4 linked regions of the Homo sapiens genome follow. The protein of the gene in region 2 interacts with the protein of the main gene of each other region in a pairwise test. Each region holds a gene or a part of one and is shown on either strand. Other genes may lie near its edges.

Region 1 (4,513 bases), on a different chromosome or scaffold from region 2:
CTAGTCTCGAACTCATGGCCTCAGCTGATCTGCCAGCCTCGGCCTCCCAGTGTTGGGATTACAGGCGTGTGCTACCGCCCCTGGCCAGAAAGGATAGTCTTCAACAGACAGTGCTGGAACAAGATATCTTTAGGTAAAAAATGGGCTGGGCACAGTGGTCACACCTGTAATTCCAACATTCTTGGAGGCTAAGGCGGGTGCATTGCTTGAGTCCAGGAGTTCAAGACCAGCCTGGGCAACATAGCGAAACCCTGTCTCTATTAAAAAAAAATTTTAATTTAAAAATATATTAAAAATAAAAAAAAGTGGCCTGGTGCGATGGTTCATACCTGTAATCCCAGCACTTTGGGAGGCTGAGGCGGGTGGATCACCAGAGGTCGGGAGTTTGAGACCAGTCTGACGAACATGGAGAAACCCTGTCTCTCTTAAAAATACAGAATTAGCCAGGGTCGTGGCCCATGCCTGTAATCCCAGCTACTTGGGAGGCTGAGGCAGAATTGCTTGAACCTGGGAGGCGGAGGTTGCGGTGAGCCAAGGTTGCACCATTGCACTCCAGCGTGGGCAACAAGAGCGAAACTCTGTCTCAAAAAAATAAATAAGAATTTAAAAATTTAAAAAACATTGATCAATACCTCACCTTATATATAAAATTTAATTCAAAATGGATCATAGGCTGGGCACAGTGGCTCACATCTTTAATTCCAGCTTTGGGAGGCTGAGGCAGATGGATCACCTGAGGTCAGGAGTTCGAGACCAACCTGGCCAAGATGGTGAAACCCCGTCTCTACTAAAAATATAAAAAATTAGCCTGGTGTGGTGGCGGTTGCCTGTAATCTCAGCTACTCGTGAGGCTGAGGCAGGAGAATTGCTTGAACCCGGGGGGTGGAGGTTGCAGTGGGCCAAGATTGCGCCATTACACTCCAGCCTGGGTGACAGAGTGAGACTCTGTCTAAAAATAAAGGATTATAGATGTAAATGTAAAACAAAAAACTAAAAGTTTAAGAAGAAGACATAAGAGAAAACCTTTGTGGCCTTGGATTAGGCAAAGATTTCTTTTTCTTTTTCTTTTTTTTTTTTTTGAGATGGAGTTTTGCTCTTGTTGCCCAGGCTGGAGTGCAATGGCATGATCTTGGCTCACTGCAACCTCTGACTCTCAGGTTCAAGTGATTCTCTTTCCTCAGCCTCCCAAATAGCTGGGATTACAGACATGCACCACCACACCTGGCTAATTTTTGTATTTTTAGTAGAGACGGGGTTTCACCATGTTGGCAGGCTGGTCTCGAACTCCTGACCTCAGGTGATCTGCCTGCCTCGTCCTCCCAAAGTGCTGGGATTATAGGCGTGAGCCACTGTGCCTGGCCTGGGCAAAGATTTCTTAGATATGAAACCAAAAGCACAGTTGATAAAATAATAAATTCATAAGCTAGACCTTTTTCAAAATTAGAAATCCCTAATTGTATGTGAAAAATAGGGAGAAGGTAGAAAAATTGGGAGCATAGGGGTGAATGCATGGCTTTGGCCTCCTTAGTGAGGACACAGACCACAGGAGGTGGATCAGCTGTTCAGTCATCCCTCTTGCTCTTGTCAAAATATCAAGATTGGAGTCTTCCATAAATTTTATTATCCTTTATAAATTATCAGTGTCATTCTAGATTCAATTCTAGTATTAAAAAACCGATGTTTTTAAATTAAGTCTTAATTTTTCCTTCTGTAAATTGTGTTCATCACAATTTTGAACTTGTCTAGTGTTCCGATTATTGTCTTAGGACCCATGCATCAGGGCAGCGAGTCTGCTCAGATCTCTTGCTGTATTGCGGAGGTAGGCCCTTCTCTCTCGACAGATCCTCATGTCCTCTAGGTGTTCCAGGACAGCCTCACACTGTCTCATGGGATATTCTTAGCCTTGCTGAATGTTGTTGGTATTTTAATTGAACTCTGGCAGGCTGCTTAGCACAACAGGAGGCAGACAGATAGGGAGGCCCCTGTGGGAGCCTGAGTAGATCATTGGTTTCCAGGCTGTTCTGATGCAGGTGGTACATACACCTCTCCATGACAATATCATTTCCTTTCTCTGTTTGACTGCCCATATTCTTTCCCCAGTGCAGCCTTTCAGGCTGTCTCATTACACCACTTGTGTCCCTATCTAAAACTCAAGTTTAAGGTTTTGTGGTGTCTTATTCCCTTGATGGCTAAGGTGGAAGTAAAAGGTCATTTTATTTTTTTTGCTTTTTTCTAAAATCCATTCTAGGGCTTTGTGAAGGATGTCCATGAAGACTCTGTCACCATCTTCTTTGAAAACAAGTAAGACCTTGGGAATAGAGAATCCAGCATACTAGGTCCTAGAAGGAGAGTGGAGAAGAGGGGGCAGCTGAGTCCTATGAGGCATGTAATAGGTTGGGAGAGCTGAGGGTTTGGGTGGGAACTCATATGGATCCCAGGAGAGGAAAGGGCTGAGAATTTGGTGAGGGTGGGGGCATTTGACCCAGTATTTAGAGTCTAGAAAGAGATGGAAGACACTACTATGGAGCAGGGCCTGGGGTTTAGCCTCTAATTATCCAGATAGGTGGAACTCGCCCAGCTGAGGCAATAACCCTTTTGTAAAGAAATGGGCAACCATATCAGTCAGAGTAGCTTTTTCATATTATTGTTTCTATTATAGCTGGCAGAGTGAGAGACAAATTCCTTTTGGGGATGTCCGGCTACCACCTCCAGCTGACTATAATAAGGAGATCACAGAAGGGGATGAAGTGGAGGTAAGGGCTGTGGAGTACACCTTTCTAAATGTCACTTTTCCCCAGGATTCTAGGCTTTTCTCTGGTTGGTTCATGTTCCTTCCTCCCCAACTAAGCCATATCCAGCCATGTAGCCTATGGAAATGTAAAATGCAACAGTTCCCCTTTTATCACTGTTGTGATCAGCCAAACTCTCAGGAACATCCCCAGTTTCAGGCGATTTGCCTTCCATTTATGGTAACAACATCTAAAATCCAGTGCCCTCTGATTTTTTTGTTGTTGTTGTTGTTGTTGTTTTGAGATGGAGTCTTGCTCTGTTGCCCAGGCTGGAGTGCAGTGGCGCGATCTCAGCTAACTGCAACCTCCGCCTCTTGGGTTCAAGCAATTCTTCCACCTCAGCCTCCCAAGTAGCTGGGATTACAAGCACCTGCCATCATGCTCGGGTAATTTTTGCATTTTTGTAAAGACATGGTTTCACCATGTTGGCCAGGCTAGTCTTGAATTTCTGACTTCAGGTGATCCACCCGCCTCAGCTTCCCAAAGTGCTGGGATTACAGGCATGAGCCACCATGCCCTGCCGTCCTCTGATTTTAATTAGTTCCTTCCTCTGGTTTCTTGTATCCTTGGTTTAAGATACATCCCAGGCTGGATGCAGTGGCTCACACCTGAAATCCCAGCACTTTGAGAGGTCGAGTGGGGCAGATCACCTGAGGTCAGGAGTTCAAGACCAGCCTGGCCAACATGATGAAACCCCATCTCTACTAAAAATACAAAAAATTAGCTGGGCGTGGTGGCGGGCGCCTATAATCCCAGCTACTTGGGAGGCTGAGGCAGGAGAATCGCTTGAACCCAGGAAGTGGAGGTTGCAGTGAGCTGAGATTGTGCCATTGCACTCCAGCCTGAGCACCAAGAGCGAAACTCTGTCTCAAAAAAAAAAAAAAAAAGATGCATCCCAAATACCTTTTTTTTCTTTTTGAGATGAAGTCTCACTCTGTTGCCCAAGCTGGAGTGCAGTGGCGCGGTCTCAGCTCACTGCAACCTCCACCTCCTGGTTCAAGTGATTCTCCTGCCTCAGCCTCCTGTGTAGCTTGGAGTACAGGCATGTGGCACCACACCCGGCTAATTTTTGTATTTTTAGTAGAGGTGGGGTTTTACCATGTTGGCCAGGCTGGTCTTGAACTCCTGACTTCAGGTGATCAGCCCACCTCAGCCAAAGTCCTGGGATTATGGGCATAAGCCACCGCGCTTGGCCTCTTTTTTTTTCGTGGAAGTGGGGTCTCACTGTGTTGCCCAGATCGTTCTTGAACTCCTGAGCTCAAGAGATCCTCCCACCTTGGCCTTCCAAAGTGCTGGGATTATAAGCTTGAGCCACTGTGCCCAGCAGCCCCAAATATCTTAATGGTTGTTCTATTGTTTATGTTGCCCAAGCTGGTCTTGAACTCCTGGGCATAAGCAGTCCTTTTGCCTCAGCCTCCCAAAGCGCTGAGATTACAGGTGTGAGCCCCACCATGCCCGGCCTCCTCATCCCTTTCTTGATGCTTTTGGGTGGTCTTCAATATCTCTTTGATTCTCTACTTTTCTTTAGGTTTATTCTCGAGCCAATGAACAGGAACCTTGTGGCTGGTGGCTGGCCCGGGTGCGGATGATGAAGGGAGATGTGAGTGACTGGGAATGCCTTTGGAGAACTACTGAAACAAATATGTTATTCATAGAAAGTTGCTCAGGTCATCCACAACTTCTCCTTTTTTACCATGTGCCAGTTCTATGTCATTGAATATGCT
Region 2 (5,528 bases):
AAGATCATTAATTTGGGGCAGATTGACCTTAAATGTTGATGTAGTACCAATTTATTACATGTGACCAGTGTCCCTGTGCTAATGATTTAGTCAGTACATTAAATATTTATTTAAGTAGATAATTTGAGAACTAGAAATATAAATCAGCACGCCTGCATTTTCTGTTTCTCTTTGCAAATGACATATTTGAAGTGATGCCATTTTCTGAGAAGAAAGATGCTTCATGCAGGGAGGAATATTGAGCTATAACATTTTACTGTATTTCCCATCTTGGAAATAAATTAAACTCTCATTGAAATAAAGGTTCTTATTATATTTTTCTTAAATTCTAACCGTATTTTTACATCCTTATTCTTGTTAGCAGATTGCTTTTTGTATTAATCTGTTCTCACACTGCTATAAAGAAATACCCAAGGCCTGGTGTGGTGGCTCATGCCTGTAATCCCAACACTTTGGGAGGCCAAAGCGGAGGATTGCTTGAGCTCAGGAGTTCGAGACCAGCCTGGGCAACATGGAGAAACCCCATCTCTATAAAAAAAATATAAAAGTTAGCTGGGTGTGGTGGCACACACCTGTAGTCCCAGCTACTCAGGAGGCTGAGGCAGGAGGATTGCTTGAGCTTGGGAGGCGGACTTTGCAGTGAGCTGAGATTGCACCACTAAACTCCAGCCTGGACAACAGAGCAAGACCCTGTCTCAAAAAAAGAAATACCTGATACTGGGTAATTTATAAGAAGTTTAATTAGCTCATGTTTCTGCAGGCTATAGGAAGTATAGCGGCATCTGCTTCTGAGGAGGCCTCAGGGAGCTTTTACTCACAGCAGAAGGCAAAGCGAGAGCAGGCCATCTTACATGGTGGGAGCAGGAGCAAGAGAGAGTGAGCGGGGAGGTGCTGCACACTTTTAAAACCAGATTCCACAAGAACTCAGTCACCATCACAGAATAGCACCACAGGGATGGTGATAAACCACTCATGAGAAATCTACCCTTATGATCCAATCACCTTCCACCAGGCCCCACCTGAACACTGGGTACTATAATTTGTTATGAGATTTGATGGAGACACAGAACCAAACCATATCACTTTTTAAAACCATAATAGTTATGCTGAGAAGTTATTTTTTGTCATAGTGCAAGATAACATGTCTTTGCTGCTGATACATTGGGTAATTCAATTTCATTTAGTGATCATAATAACCTTATTATTTTTTTCTTTTTTCAGTCACGGAACAGCAAATTTCTGAGAAGTTGAAGACTATCATGAAAGAAAATACAGAACTTGTACAAAAATTGTCAAATTATGAACAGAAGGTATGATTATTCTTTGTTTTTTTTTTTTTTCATGGTCCCAGCTTGAATTATTTGTCACCTATCTTATAGTTCAGTTACTATGGTATTTTTAAATAGTATTTATTATTACATTAATTCCTATAAACCATCCAGATCTTAAGCAGTCATATGTGTAAAGTACTGTTTTCTTCTGTAAGAGGTCAGTCACTTGAAAATAAGTTCTGGTAGCACTATACTTTATATTTCTGGATTCTGAATGCTTTATTTTATATAGATCAAGGAATCAAAGAAACATGTTCAGGAAACCAGGAAACAAAATATGATTCTCTCTGATGAAGCAATTAAATATAAGGTAAAAACTTCTTTTGGGGATTACATTTTAAAACAAAAGTAAAAGTAATGAGTATAACTAACCTTAATATCTTTTTTGTAGGATAAAATCAAGACACTTGAAAAAAATCAGGAAATTCTGGATGACACAGCTAAAAATCTTCGTGTTATGCTAGAATCTGAGAGAGAACAGAATGTCAAGAATCAGGACTTGGTAAGAGTTTTGCTGCTAAGTATTACTAATAATTTGGGTTTTGAACTCTTTTGTAGATTGAGTTGAACTCTTTATTTTCCATGCTGTTATGTGAAGTAAGAGTGCGAGTCAGGGAAGTTGAACCTACTTCTGTCCATTTTTGTGGAATTTTAAGTACTTACACAAGAAATTATTCTTACAGGCCTAGGAAGTATTTTGGTTCTCAACCCTAGGTAATTGTCATATTGCTTGGCTCTGCCCTCCGAAACATGTGGAACAACTAAGAAACCCAGTTGAACAGTCCTTGTGTTTTGTTTTGTTTTGCAAAGTTTTTTTTTTTTTTTGCTATAAACATTTTATTTTATTAATAGAATAGTTTTAGAATGACCTAAAAGTTGCAAAGATAGTAGAGAGGGTTCCATAAATCCCACACCCTATTAATCTTGATGACCTCGTTGAGGTAGTATTGCCAGGTTTCTTCACTGTAAAATTACTTTTTTTTTTTTTAAACTTTTTGCATTATTGTACTCTTTGGAAGGAAGTTACTATCGCAGCCCACAGTTAAAAAGTGAAGGGTTATGCTCCATCCTCTTGAGGAGCCAGAATCTTCATAAATTATCTAGAATTCTATATGGGTGATCTGTCTATTCTCACTCCAATCCTACCATTTTTAATTTAGGCAAGAGCAATTGGTGTTTGACAAAACAATTGTCAAATTGTACTAAATTAAAGTACCTTGGGGATTATTTTTTTCTCTTGCCACAAGAAAAAAAAAAGTCACATTGATTTGAACTGGTTTACTTAAAAGTTTTTTCAGTTTCTTTTCTTTCACCTTTTAGTCTGGTCATCTACCACATTTTATTCTAACCAGGAAGGTTGTGTATGCTGTGAAATATTTATGCCTTTGATTATTTTCCCTTACCTCTTTAAGTTCTTGATTTTTCCCGAGGGCAAAACTGAAACACCTGCTTTTACCTGAAACATAGGGGATGGCTCTGGGACATACTTTGTTGATGTTTCTTCTTCTTAGTATGTATCCCAGTGTTTCTACTAAAATCCTAATATGCATTTTGTGTTCTGTTTTTACATGGCAGATATCAGAAAACAAGAAATCTATAGAGAAGTTAAAGGATGTTATTTCAATGAATGCCTCAGAATTTTCAGAGGTAAAGCTGACTGTAATTCCTGCAGGATATTAATACTATATCATAGTTTGATTGCAGAGCAAAAATTTGATATATGCTAAAATGTGCAAAAAATGAAAACTACATGATGTTGGGTTGGAAAAGTAACTTTTTCTGGTTTTCTTTGGAATTAATTCACTAATAGGAGTGTTTTGCATTAGGTTCAGATTGCACTTAATGAAGCTAAGCTTAGTGAAGAGAAGGTGAAGTCTGAATGCCATCGGGTTCAAGAAGAAAATGCTAGGCTTAAGAAGAAAAAAGAGCAGGTAAAGGAAAGTGCGTGTCCCAGGTCATGTAAAATAGAGAACTCAGTATCATACCTCATGAATGCCTTTACTCAGATCTATTTTTAGGGTAATATATGTGCAGGATTCTGTTCTTAGATATGCAAAGTTTAAACTATGCTTCCAAAATTGAGTGTAGGTATACATTCTCTATCTGTTCTGGATTTTCTGTTCTGTACAATTTATTTTGGCTATCAGAGTGTGTAGTCTTGTTTTGTCAGACACCAATTGCTATTAACTTGAGTAGCCTCGAGTGGGTAGTAGATTGGCTTTTTAGACCCAAGAGTTAGATATTTTATAACCCTCCTTTGAGTAGTTACTGCTTCACTAGCCAAGGGAAGGTTACATGATCAGGAGTGTGGACTTGGGAGATAGTAGGATGAGCCCTTCTGTTCCTTCTGGAAGTGAATTATTTGAATTGGCTACAATTTTCTGAAGGATGCAATAAACAAGATCAATTTCCTTGATAGCTCTGATGTTCTCACTACAGCTCTGAGGGTTGGGGCCACTGTCTCCTCCCACTTAACCAAGGTCTTAGCCCATAGTGATAGGCCAAGGAGAGGCATGGTTCCTTATTTACCTGTCTCATTCATGTGGTCCTAATGTCTCCAGTGCAAAAGCCCTAACCTGTGGGAATCATGTGTTTTAACTTTGCAGTTGCAGCAGGAAATCGAAGACTGGAGTAAATTACATGCTGAGCTCAGTGAGCAAATCAAATCATTTGAGAAGTCTCAGAAAGATTTGGAAGTAGCTCTTACTCACAAGGATGATAATATTAATGTAAGTGCGTTCATGAATACAAGCTTAATTCTTGTGAATTATCAAATCTGTTGAATTAAATGGAAAGACTCTTAATGCCCTTTTACTTCTTTTCTAGGCTTTGACTAACTGCATTACACAGTTGAATCTGTTAGAGTGTGAATCTGAATCTGAGGGTCAAAATAAAGGTGGAAATGATTCAGATGAATTAGCAAATGGAGAAGTGGGAGGTAAGATCAGCCTCAAGGAGGATGGACCCCTTTTGCCTTCCTGTCTTTAAGTGCACCAGTGCTACTTTTCAGCTGGCTGCATTTCCTCTTAAGCTTTCGAGGTGTAAATACATTGGATTTGAATGTGTGTCTGTTTGCATTGGGCAGAGGTGGATTGCTAGGGTGAGGTGTAGCAGTAAGCATGCAGTGAACACTGACTTTGTTTTCACATTGAGACTAGAAGGGTGCACGGGAGCTGCACTGGTCATGTCTTACACCTCTAAGTATTGGACACATACAGTAGTAGAAACTTGTTTTTCAATTTCATGGAGATAACATTTTAAAACTTGTCATCTCAGTAGCTGTGTGGTTTTAAGGCCCACAACTGGTTTTAAGAGTACTGAGGTGGTTGGAGGCATAAACTGACTAAGGCCATGAAAGAAAACCACAACTGGTTTTGAGAGTACTGAGGTGGTTGGATCCATAAACTAAGGCCATGAGAGTGGAGGCTATAGTGTTGCAGTGTTTACTGATGAGGAAAATGTTTCTAGATGCCCTCTCTCAAGTTGGATATTGCTTGTGTAGTGGGTGTTTTAAACCACACCTGGTAGTAGATTCTGGAGGAGAATAGGAGGGAATCTTTCTGAATAAGACACTAAGCCCAGATGGAAGAAAGAGCTTTATCTCACATGTTTCTTCTTGCTCAATAATGGCATGTATAACATGTTTATTGTACAAATGGGAATTCACTTTTTCAGTCTTAAGTTTGCAGTTCTCTTAAAAGTCAGTCTAATCCTTTTCTGTTTTTGTTTGTTCTTTAAATGTTTGAACATGACAATTGTTTAGTTTTGGGTAAATCAAGAAAATATAGATTTAAAAAGCAAGGGAAGAAAAAGCAATGAAAGAAAGCCTTTTGTTTTTTAGGTGACCGGAATGAGAAGATGAAAAATCAAATTAAGCAGATGATGGATGTCTCTCGGGTATAATCGTTTTTAGAGTCCCATAATTGCCTGTGAATACTTTTACTATGCCTCACTTTTATGAATACTTGTCTCTTCTGCAATTTTTAGACACAGACTGCAATATCGGTAGTTGAAGAGGATCTAAAGCTTTTACAGCTTAAGCTAAGAGCCTCCGTGTCCACTAAATGTAACCTGGAAGGTAGGTTGCTTCTTGAGAAGAAATTGCTATATATTGGAAAGATACAAAATTGCATTAGAAAGATAAAGAGCGGCTTCCTGCTTTCATACTTCTCATTTCTCTCAGCACCAGCCCCCAAC
Region 3 (4,645 bases), on a different chromosome or scaffold from region 2:
CTTGTTGTCAGAGCCCAGAAGATTTGCATTTTTAAGCAAGCTCCCAGGTGGCTAGGGGACTAAGCACAGCACCCAGCCTAGATTCCTCACATTGCAAGGCCAGAAAGAGGATCCAGCATAATGCTAAGAGGTCAGCACACCAAGAAAATCCTGGGTTCTTCATTCAGGAAAGCCGCTGGGTGGCTGAGGACCCCAGGCACATTGTGGACATGCAGTACTTAGCCCACTGCACTTTGTCCCTGCCACATATTCCGAGGTGGGATGATGGGGGATAGAAGTAGGGTGCTGTCATCAGACAGACTTGAGCTCCACATCTAGCTCTGAACATAGCTATCTGAATTCTGGCAATCATTCCACATTTTTGAGTTTCAGTTTCTTACTATGAAAATTGATCATAGTATCTTTTTCCAAGAGTTTTGTGGGGATTAAATGACATAATGCATATCAAGCCCTTACCACAATGCCTGGTACATAGAAAGCACCAATGGATATTACTTGATACTAATTTATCAACAGACTGTGACCTTGCAGAGGGCAGGCAACAAACCAGTCCTGGCCCACAGAGGGCACTCAGTGTTTGTGGAACTGAAGAAAGCTATTAATTCTGTTGGCGCTAAACAAAGATCTGAGATTTCTACGAATATAAAGTCCACAAATACATAACCATAGAAATGAATTGGGGTGCAGCTGCCCTTTCCCCACTTCCATGTCCCCTACCCCATTTTCTCCCCTTCCCTTCCTGTCCTTCTACTTCTTCTTCTTTTTTTTTTTTTTTCTGAGACAGGGTCTTGCTCTCACTTTGTCACCCAGTCTGGGGTACAGTGGCACAATCTCAGCTCACTGTAGCCTCAACCTGCTGAGCTGAAGTGATCCTCCCACCTCAGCCTCCTGAGTAGTTAGGACCACAGGAATGGGCCACCATGCCCAGCTAATTTTTGTAGAGACAGGGTTTTGCCATGTTGCTTAGGCTGGTCTTGAACTCCTGGGTTCAAGCTGAGGCAGGGGTGAGGCACCGCATCCGGTGATAGCCCTTCCTTTCTTTGTATATGACTTTTCTCCTTCATTTTATGTAGTTATAATAATAACAAAAGCTAATGATTACTGCCTGCTAGCCACATGTCAGGCACTGTCCTCAGCTCTGCAGATGTGTTATCCCAGAGAATCCTCACAACAACCTGGGAGGCTGACTACGGCATGATCTTCACTTTAAGATGAGTAAACTGAGGAACAGGGAGGTTAGGAGACTTTCCCCAAGTCACACAACCTGAACATGATGGAACCAGAAAAGGAGGCCAAGCGGACTTTGTGCTCCAGATGCTGGAGCAGTGTGACTGTGTGTGTGTGTGTGGGGGGGGGGGGTGCAGTGTGTTTGTGATGTGGTGGCTATGTGTGTGTAACATATGTATGTGTACACAGTGTATGTGTGCATAGTGTGGTGTGTCTGTGGTGTGATGCATGTGTGGTTGTGATTGTGTGTGTGTAGGGAAGGTCAATGGCGGAGTGTGGAATGCTTGCCCTCTGCACCTGCCCCACCTGAGGCCCTTGCAGTTACCAAGTTCCAGTCCTACTGACCTCTCTCTTTCATCCTTGCTAACAGGAAGAGATCCTGCCACGCTGGGGGGAAGGGGAGAAAGCAGCCAGGAGGCCAAGGCAGGAGGATGAGGGTCAGCTATGAGAAGGAGTTGGGCTCTTCTGCCCCAGGCCTTTCCTCATTCTGTCCTTTCCTTGGTCTTGTGTGCACCAAATCCCCAAGACACCACCAAGAGTGTTTTCCAGGTCCTGTGGCCTGTGAGCATCTCCTGGATCAGCCTGAACCCATGGCGTTGATGGGCTGCTTGTCCCAGCATGAAGTTCCCCCAGCCTTGGGGCTGTGATGCCAACAGGACAGTGTGGCCCAGCAGGCTGCCTGGTCTCACCCTTGCAGCAGACTCTCTCCCACCATTTCATGAGTTTGTCATGCTGCTGGTGTGCCTCAGATCCAGGCTAGAGAGCATCTGCCTGGTGCTGCACACCAATGATGGGTGGAGCTGGGCTCTGCAGCCCCTCCGCGTGGCTGCCCTTGGAAGCATCTTGAATGCAGTGCCGTGGGTTCCAAAGGGCCAAGAGGATCCTCTTGTATTCCCTGCGGAAGTTTTGGTTCAAGAGCCCATAGACAATGGCATTCAGGCAGCTGTTGAAATAAGCCAGTAAGTAGCTAGTGACAAATAGCCCCTCAGGGATCTGGGGAGCCATTTCTTGGGGGTTGATGGCCACAGCGAGGCCGATGCAGTTAAGTGGAGCCCAGCAGATGGCAAAGATCACAAACACCACAAACATGGTTAGAAAGCTCCGCAAGTCGCTGGGCTTCAGGCACAGCCTGCTCTCTGGCTTGGCTTTCCTGCGGGCCTGAAGCACCAGCACCCAGATGCGCAGGTAGCAGAAGGACACGACAGCGATAGGGAGGAGGAAGTGGATGACCACCACTGCCGCCGTGTACTGGGTGCTGGCGGTCTGGATGAAGGTGCAGGAATAGATGCGTGGGTCGTACTCCAGGGACCCCACAAAGAAGTTGGGCAGCAAGGCCACCACGGTGAGGAGCCAGATGAGGCAGATGTGCAGAGGGGTGTGCCAGCGCCGGTAGATTCGGTGGTAGGCCATGCTGTGGCAGATGTAGCAGTAGCGGTTAATGGCGATGGCAGTGATATTGAAGACAGAGCCGATGACGCTCAGGCCCATCACAAAGGCGCTGGCCTTGCAGTGCTCCTCCCCCAGGGCCCAGCCGTCATAGAAGATGGCCACGAGGATTAGCGGGTAGGGGTAGAAGGCCACCACCAGGTCAGCCAATGCCAGACTCACCAAGAACAAATTACCTGAAGCAGCAAACAGAGCAACAGTCAGCACGAGACCCCACGACTTAGATTCTGTAGAACATCCTACCCTCCACGAAGTTACTTTTGGCAATGTGAGTGGAAACCAAGTGGCTCTTAGAGGCACAGAACTGAAGACTCAGATTGCATTTCTGCCACTCACTAGCTATATGACTGAGGCAAGCTGTTTAGGCTCTCAGAGCCCCATTTTCCTCATTTGTGAACTAGGGGCAGTGATACCTACCTCATAGTATAGCTGTAAGAATTAATGATACAAAGTGCTCAGGGATTTAACAGGTGCTGACACATGCTAACTGTTTCCATGATAGGCACAGATGCTCACGGGCTTTGCACCATTTAAGCTCCAGCAAAGATTTCGGAGGAGGAGAGTCTGAAAGTCAGGAGTGTGGATTTCTCATCACTATCATCGCTCCCTCACATTCCCTCACCTCCTCGCACATCTCTCTGGTTGTCTCCTTTTGCATTTTCTCCCCACTGGTTAACAGGCTACTTTCTAAGTGTCTTTACATGGGTTTTGTAAATGTGAATTGCATTTTGCAGCTGGACTAGAAGAAAGGTGTTGAGAGTGGGAACCATGTGTTTCTGGTATTCCCATTTGTGCCCTGTCTGGGTCCAGTACTCCCAGCCTTGTGGCCATGTTGACAGACACTTGCAGTAGCGGCACAGAGCCCCAGCCCTGTGGGGTGAGAAAGGGCTGTCAGCACTCCTAAGCTCACAGCCTCTGGGGGGCCTCCCTGCTTTGCCTGCACCATGGTGGCCTTCCTGGACTATCTAGGCATTTATCCTTTGAATGGAGCCTTATCCAACATCACCAAGCTTGGTCAACCAGAGAGAGCCTCAGGAAATGATACACCCATCAATTAATATGCTTCAGGCATGTTCTAAGCTGGAGTCCCAGGGCAGAGGCAGGGCTTACTCTAAAAGAACACAATCTCTGCTCCTCAAGTGTTTGCGTTCTAAAACCAACACTGACTCACGAATAGAGCACCAAGAACCTAAACGTTTGGGCAATACAAAGCTCATAGTGTGAGCAGTTCCATCACTAATGCCAATCTTCTCATTCACCAAGTGTTGTACTTTTTGAATACCTACTGTATGCTCAAAAGATAACAGACTCTCCCTCCAGCAGGGTCCCTGAGTGATGCAATGTGCACTGGGCATGGTATTTTAAATTTTCTGGTCTCTTGCCACATGGTGAAGCCTCCAGCCTTAGGGTGGCGGAATGCAGAGGGCGGCTGGGATGGTGTGCAGGAGGAACTCCCAAGTCAGCAAAGACACAGACATGGAAACTCCACAGCCACCATGTGTCTGTCCCATTGCCACAGAGGCTGTGGTGGCTTTGGGGGTCTAGAGGGTCAGGCAGGTGGAAAGAGCCCCCAAAGCACAGCAATTGGAGAGGCCAGGCTCTGTGTGGATTCCACGGGGTACAGAAAAAGGGAGGCTGAGAGCCGCCCAGCTGGGATTTCACCTGAGTCAGCCCTTCAAGTGAAGTAGATGGCACACCTGGACTTATTCACCCACAAGGGTAGGAAAAGGACTGCCTCCAGCCTTCCCACATTCACCCCATCTCAAAGAAGATTCCCCATAGCATGGTCCGAATGGGGATGGGAACTTGAAAGACCCTCAGGAAGCCTTCATGAAGGGCCTATTTTGACCTCAGAGGAATGGGGTCAACCCCACTGAGAACCCACACAAGTCTACTGGAGTCCTGGGAGTTCTCAAGACCTAACTATAATACTACTGTGTCCACAGCTAGGTTAGGAAACCAGGGAGACAGG
Region 4 (4,513 bases), on a different chromosome or scaffold from region 2:
GAGACAATTCTGTGATGTGGGAGGTAAATCTGTTTCTGGTGGGTCTGCTGCTGAAAATGGGGCGGGAGACTAGTCCGGGGAAATCTTGGCCTTTGCCCTTTTGGGAGAGTCCTGGTCAGAGAGAGAGGACATCCAGGGCAGATATCTGTGGTTTGTGTTGCCTGTAAAAGGAAGGAACGGCCAGTGTTTGCTCCATGAGGATAGCACCTCTGCATGAATTCTGTGTTTTGTGGGTGCCTTAAGTCATTTTAGTCTGGAAGATTAGCAATGGAATATACATTTAAAGAATCAATATGTTGTATTATATTTATAGACAAAACTAAATGCTTTAGATATTATAGAGTGCTGAAACTATGCTAAAGAGAATAAAAACAAGTTTTAAAATTCAATATTATTCACCTATAAAATTAGTCAAGGATTAAAAAAAAAATAACCAGATACTCTTCAAGATCTAGTGATGATATATTAGGGATATGCTAGTGGGACTGCAGTTTATTACCTGCAGGAGAAAATTTGTCAGAATGTATCAGATACCTTAAAATGTTCAAAGTCCCTTGACCCTGAATTTCTACTTCTAGGAATATAGTACAGGAAAATAATCTGAAATTGAGGCTATGTGGAATATGTTAATCCTAGGGTTGTTTATAATAACAAAATGTTGGAGACAGCGAAATTGCCAGCAGCAGAGAAAGAAGTAATCTTTCTTTGTTTTTTTTTTTTTGTTTTTTTTTTCTTGAGACGGAGTTTTTGTCTGTTACCCAGGTTGGAGTGCAGTGGCGTGATCTCAGCTCACTGTGACCTCCACCTCCTGGGTTCAAGCAATTCTCTTGCCTCAGTCTTCCGAGTAGCTAGGATTACAGGCATGTGCCACCATGCCCGGCTAATTTTTGTATTTTTAGTAGAGAGGGGTTTCACCATGTTGGCCAGGCTGGTCTCGAACTCCTGACCTCATGATCCGCCTGCTTTGGCCTCCCAAAGTGCGGGGATTACAGGTGTGAGCCACCAGGCCCGGCCTTGAAAGAAATAATCTATAGCTCCATTAATATGCATGAAACCTAACTGGGAGTAAAATATAAAACTATTCAGTTGTGTTTAAGTGGTGGAATTAAATAAAACCTTTTTGTTTCACTTACCTCTGCTTATGAAATTAACATGTGCTCACTATAGGAATTTGGGAAGCAAGAAAGTGATAAAAGTAAGAATCTTTTAGAATATGTCACATTAGGCAGGCTCAGTGGCTTACACCTGTAATTCTAGCACTTTAGGAGGCCAAGGTGGGAGGATCACTTGAACCCAGGAGTTTGAGGCCAGCCTAGGAAAGAGTGAGGCCCTGTCTCTACAAAAAATTTTTTTAAAAAAATTTGCCAGGCGTGATGGTGCATGCCTTTAGTTCCAGCTACTCAGGGGGCTAAGGTGGGAGGATCATTTGAGCCCAGGAATTCGAGGCTACTGTGACCTGTGATTGAGCCACTGCACTCCAGTCTGGGCAACAGAGTGAGACTCTGTCTCTGAAAAAAACAAACAAACCCAATATGTGACATTACCTAGAGAGGTGTCCTTAAACTAACAAATCTATGTTGGCATAAGTAAATTTATAAACTACTTGTAATGACATAAAAATCAGAATGATAGAAGTGTATTTGGTGGACTCAAGTGTGATATTTAGGTTACAAGTATTAAAAAATTTATTTTATAGATTAGACCAAAAAAGAAGTACAATACAAACTTCATGTCTTATTTCATTTAGATCTTTGAAGATGGTCATTTGAGCCACTTTATAGATGGAAAAGGAGGTACGGGGAACTGGATGTCCTATGTCAACTGTGCCCGCTTCCCCAAGGAGCAGAACCTAGTTGCTGTGCAGTGTCAAGGGCATATATTTTATGAGAGCTGCAAAGAGATCCATCAGAACCAAGAGCTCCTTGTGTGGTATGGAGACTGCTATGAGAAATTTCTGGATATTCCTGTGAGCCTTCAGGTCACAGAGCCGGGGAAGCAGCCATCTGGGCCCTCTGAAGGTGAGTGCACACCCTCGCCTTGCCCAATGAGGGCATCCCAGTAGAAGGACTGGGCTCTTTTCCACAAACCCTCCATGCACAGCTCCTCCCTCCTAAAGGCTAATGCAGAGGACTAACCGAGAGTGTCTCTAACCAGGGGGGAATTACCCAGGTGAAGGAAAGCATCCTCAATTTCCCAAAGCTGCGGAAGCTACTCCTATTTATAAAGATATATACTCCTATTTATAAAGACTTGTTCTTCTTCCCTACCTTCCACCCCAAGAGTAAAAGAAAACGTACTAAATGGATGTAACTTCTACCATAGGTGAGCCAGTTTCTGATTCATCTCTGCCCAGGCTAATGTAGCTGAAGTCTAATCACTAGAGCAGTGTTTTTCAAATGGTGGGTTGCAGAGTTGCATGTCTTAGTGGGGTGGGAAATCAATTTAGTGGTCAAGACCCACATTAAAAAAAAAAAAAAGTATAGAGTAGAATAGAAAATATTGATGGGAATCCCTTAAGAGTAAGGATTGTTTTGTGAAATTTCTATTTCACATGGGTATATGTGGGTATGGTGGGTGTCAAGCATAAAATACATTGCCTACTATGGGTCTCAGGCAAGTTTGAGAAATACTGAGCTGGACTCTCACTCTCAAACTTTAATGTGGGAATGAATACCCAGGGATCTTCATGATGCTGGTTCTCATTCAGGGTAGGGGCCCAGGATTTGGTATTTTTATCAACTTGCAGGGAGTGCTGCTGGTCCTGGTCCCTGGTCCACATTCCAGTAGCAAGGGGCGAGGGAACCACCAGCCCACTCTAGGGGTGAGACTTTGGAATTTGCATGTTAAATAAGCTCTCCAAGTGATTTCTATATACACTGAAGTTTAGGAACTACTAATCTAGTAGGTGGGACAAGATAAATGTAAATTCCTGTAAATAAGAGAGAAGGCAGGCCGGATACTGTGGCTCACACCTGTAATCTCAGCACTTTTGGAGGCGGAGATGGGCGGATCACTTGAGGTCAGGACTTCAAGACTAGCCTGGCCAACATGGTAAAACCTCATCTCAGGTCGGGCACAGTGGCTCACGCCTCTAATCCCAGCACTTTGGGATGCCGAAATGGGCAGATCACCAGGTCAGGAGATCAAGACCATCCTGGCTAACGTGGTGAAAACCCGTCTCTACTAAAAATACAAAAAATTAGCGGGGCGTAGTGGCACACACCTGTAGTTCCAGCTACTCAGGAGGCTGAGGCAGGAGAATCATTTGAACCCAGGAGACAGAGGTTGCAATATGCCAAGACCGCACCACTGCACTCCAGCCTGGGCAACAGAGTAAGACTCCGTCTCCAAAAAAAAAAAAAGAGAGAGAGAGAAGGCAAATTATTATGATGTAATAAATGTGTAAGGAGCAGGTTTAAAAAAAAAATGGCCCAGGCGTGGTGGCCCACGCCTGTAATCCCAGCACTTTGGGAGGTGAGGCGGGCGGATCACGAGGTCAGGAGATCATAGCCATCCTGGCTAACACGGTGAAACCTCTTCTCTACTAAAAATACAAAAAAATTAGCCGGGCGTGGTGGCGGGCCCCTGTAGTCCCAGCTACTTGGGAGGCTGAGGCAGGAGAATGGCGTGAACCCAGCAGGGGGAGCTTGCAGTGAGCTGAGATTGCGCCACTGCACACCAGCCTGGGCGACAGAGCGAGATTCCGTTTCAAAAAAAAAAAAAAAAAAAGTAAATTGCATCTGCATGCCTGTTTTCCTGCTAGGCTGAGATGCTTCAGGGCAGGAAATAACCCTAAACACTTTAGTATCTCGTGCTTCTGGATCCCAGTGCGTACTGACTGAGAGGAAGACATTAGAACTAAGCTAGAAAAAGCTGCTTAGGGATGAGATGAAATAAGGCACGTGTAAGAGGGAGAGAGGGAAGGCAATCAGGCTCAGGGAACAGTGAAGCAGAAGGCAAGGAAATGTCCAGAAATTAGGGGGTAAATAATAAGCAGTCATTATTTATCTAATGATAAATAATGAGCAGTCAGCCGTCATTATTTATCTAATGATAAATAATGGTCCCAATGATGAGGGGCTGTCAGGATTGTTTTGGTGAACTATCTTCCTACTCCCCCAGGTATCTTATGTCCATGCTGGGTTCCCCCCGCCACTGAACCATCATAAGCCCTCATTCTGTTGCTTGTTCTGATCGCCTCTGATATCTGCATACAGGTTGAGTATCCTTTTTCTGAAATGCCTGGGACCAGAAGTGTTTTGGTGGGTGGTGTGGGTGTGGGAATGTAGGTGAAGATAGGAATGGAGGCAAAAATGGTTGGGATTCTCTATGATCTGTGGAGCTCTAAGTTGTCTCCTACTTAGCACCAAACCAAGACCTGTTGGTCACTTCCTGAAATGTACCAACTCCTTTCGAAATAAAAGTCAACAGGCTGGGCGTGGTGGCTCACACCTGTAACCCCAACACTTTGGGAGGCCAAGGTGGTTGGGTCACCTGAGGTCAGGAGTTCACG

Evidence for each region. The genes of interacting proteins can lie anywhere in the genome.
Region 1: the proteins of MIA3 (region 2) and FXR2 interact in binary tests that used the Homo sapiens proteins (3 or more experiments, as listed by UniProt).
Region 3: the proteins of MIA3 (region 2) and MTNR1B interact in a two-hybrid assay, tested with the Homo sapiens proteins (one large-scale study listed by BioGRID and IntAct).
Region 4: the proteins of MIA3 (region 2) and PRDM14 interact in binary tests that used the Homo sapiens proteins (3 or more experiments, as listed by UniProt).

The regions. Positions count from the first base shown.
Region 1 is NC_000017.11:7,603,885-7,608,397, reverse strand, and holds part of FXR2 (RNA-binding protein FXR2), read left to right. Parts: intron 1-2,248; coding exon 2,249-2,301; intron 2,302-2,659; coding exon 2,660-2,753; intron 2,754-4,317; coding exon 4,318-4,389; intron 4,390-4,492; coding exon 4,493-4,513. UniProt on the Homo sapiens protein: mRNA-binding protein that acts as a regulator of mRNAs translation and/or stability, and which is required for adult hippocampal neurogenesis. Specifically binds to AU-rich elements (AREs) in the 3'-UTR of target mRNAs.
Region 2 is NC_000001.11:222,649,071-222,654,598, forward strand, and holds part of MIA3 (transport and Golgi organization protein 1 homolog isoform 1 precursor), read left to right. Parts: intron 1-1,221; coding exon 1,222-1,310; intron 1,311-1,563; coding exon 1,564-1,641; intron 1,642-1,722; coding exon 1,723-1,833; intron 1,834-2,906; coding exon 2,907-2,978; intron 2,979-3,157; coding exon 3,158-3,262; intron 3,263-3,937; coding exon 3,938-4,060; intron 4,061-4,157; coding exon 4,158-4,269; intron 4,270-5,172; coding exon 5,173-5,228; intron 5,229-5,318; coding exon 5,319-5,409; intron 5,410-5,528.
Region 3 is NC_000011.10:92,979,651-92,984,295, reverse strand, and holds the end of MTNR1B (melatonin receptor type 1B), read right to left. Parts: intron 2,850-4,645; coding exon 1,984-2,849; 3' UTR 1,514-1,983; downstream 1-1,513.
Region 4 is NC_000008.11:70,063,740-70,068,252, reverse strand, and holds part of PRDM14 (PR domain zinc finger protein 14), read left to right. Parts: coding exon 1-23; intron 24-1,747; coding exon 1,748-2,018; intron 2,019-4,513. UniProt on the Homo sapiens protein: Transcription factor that has both positive and negative roles on transcription. Required for the maintenance of embryonic stem cell identity and the reacquisition of pluripotency in somatic cells.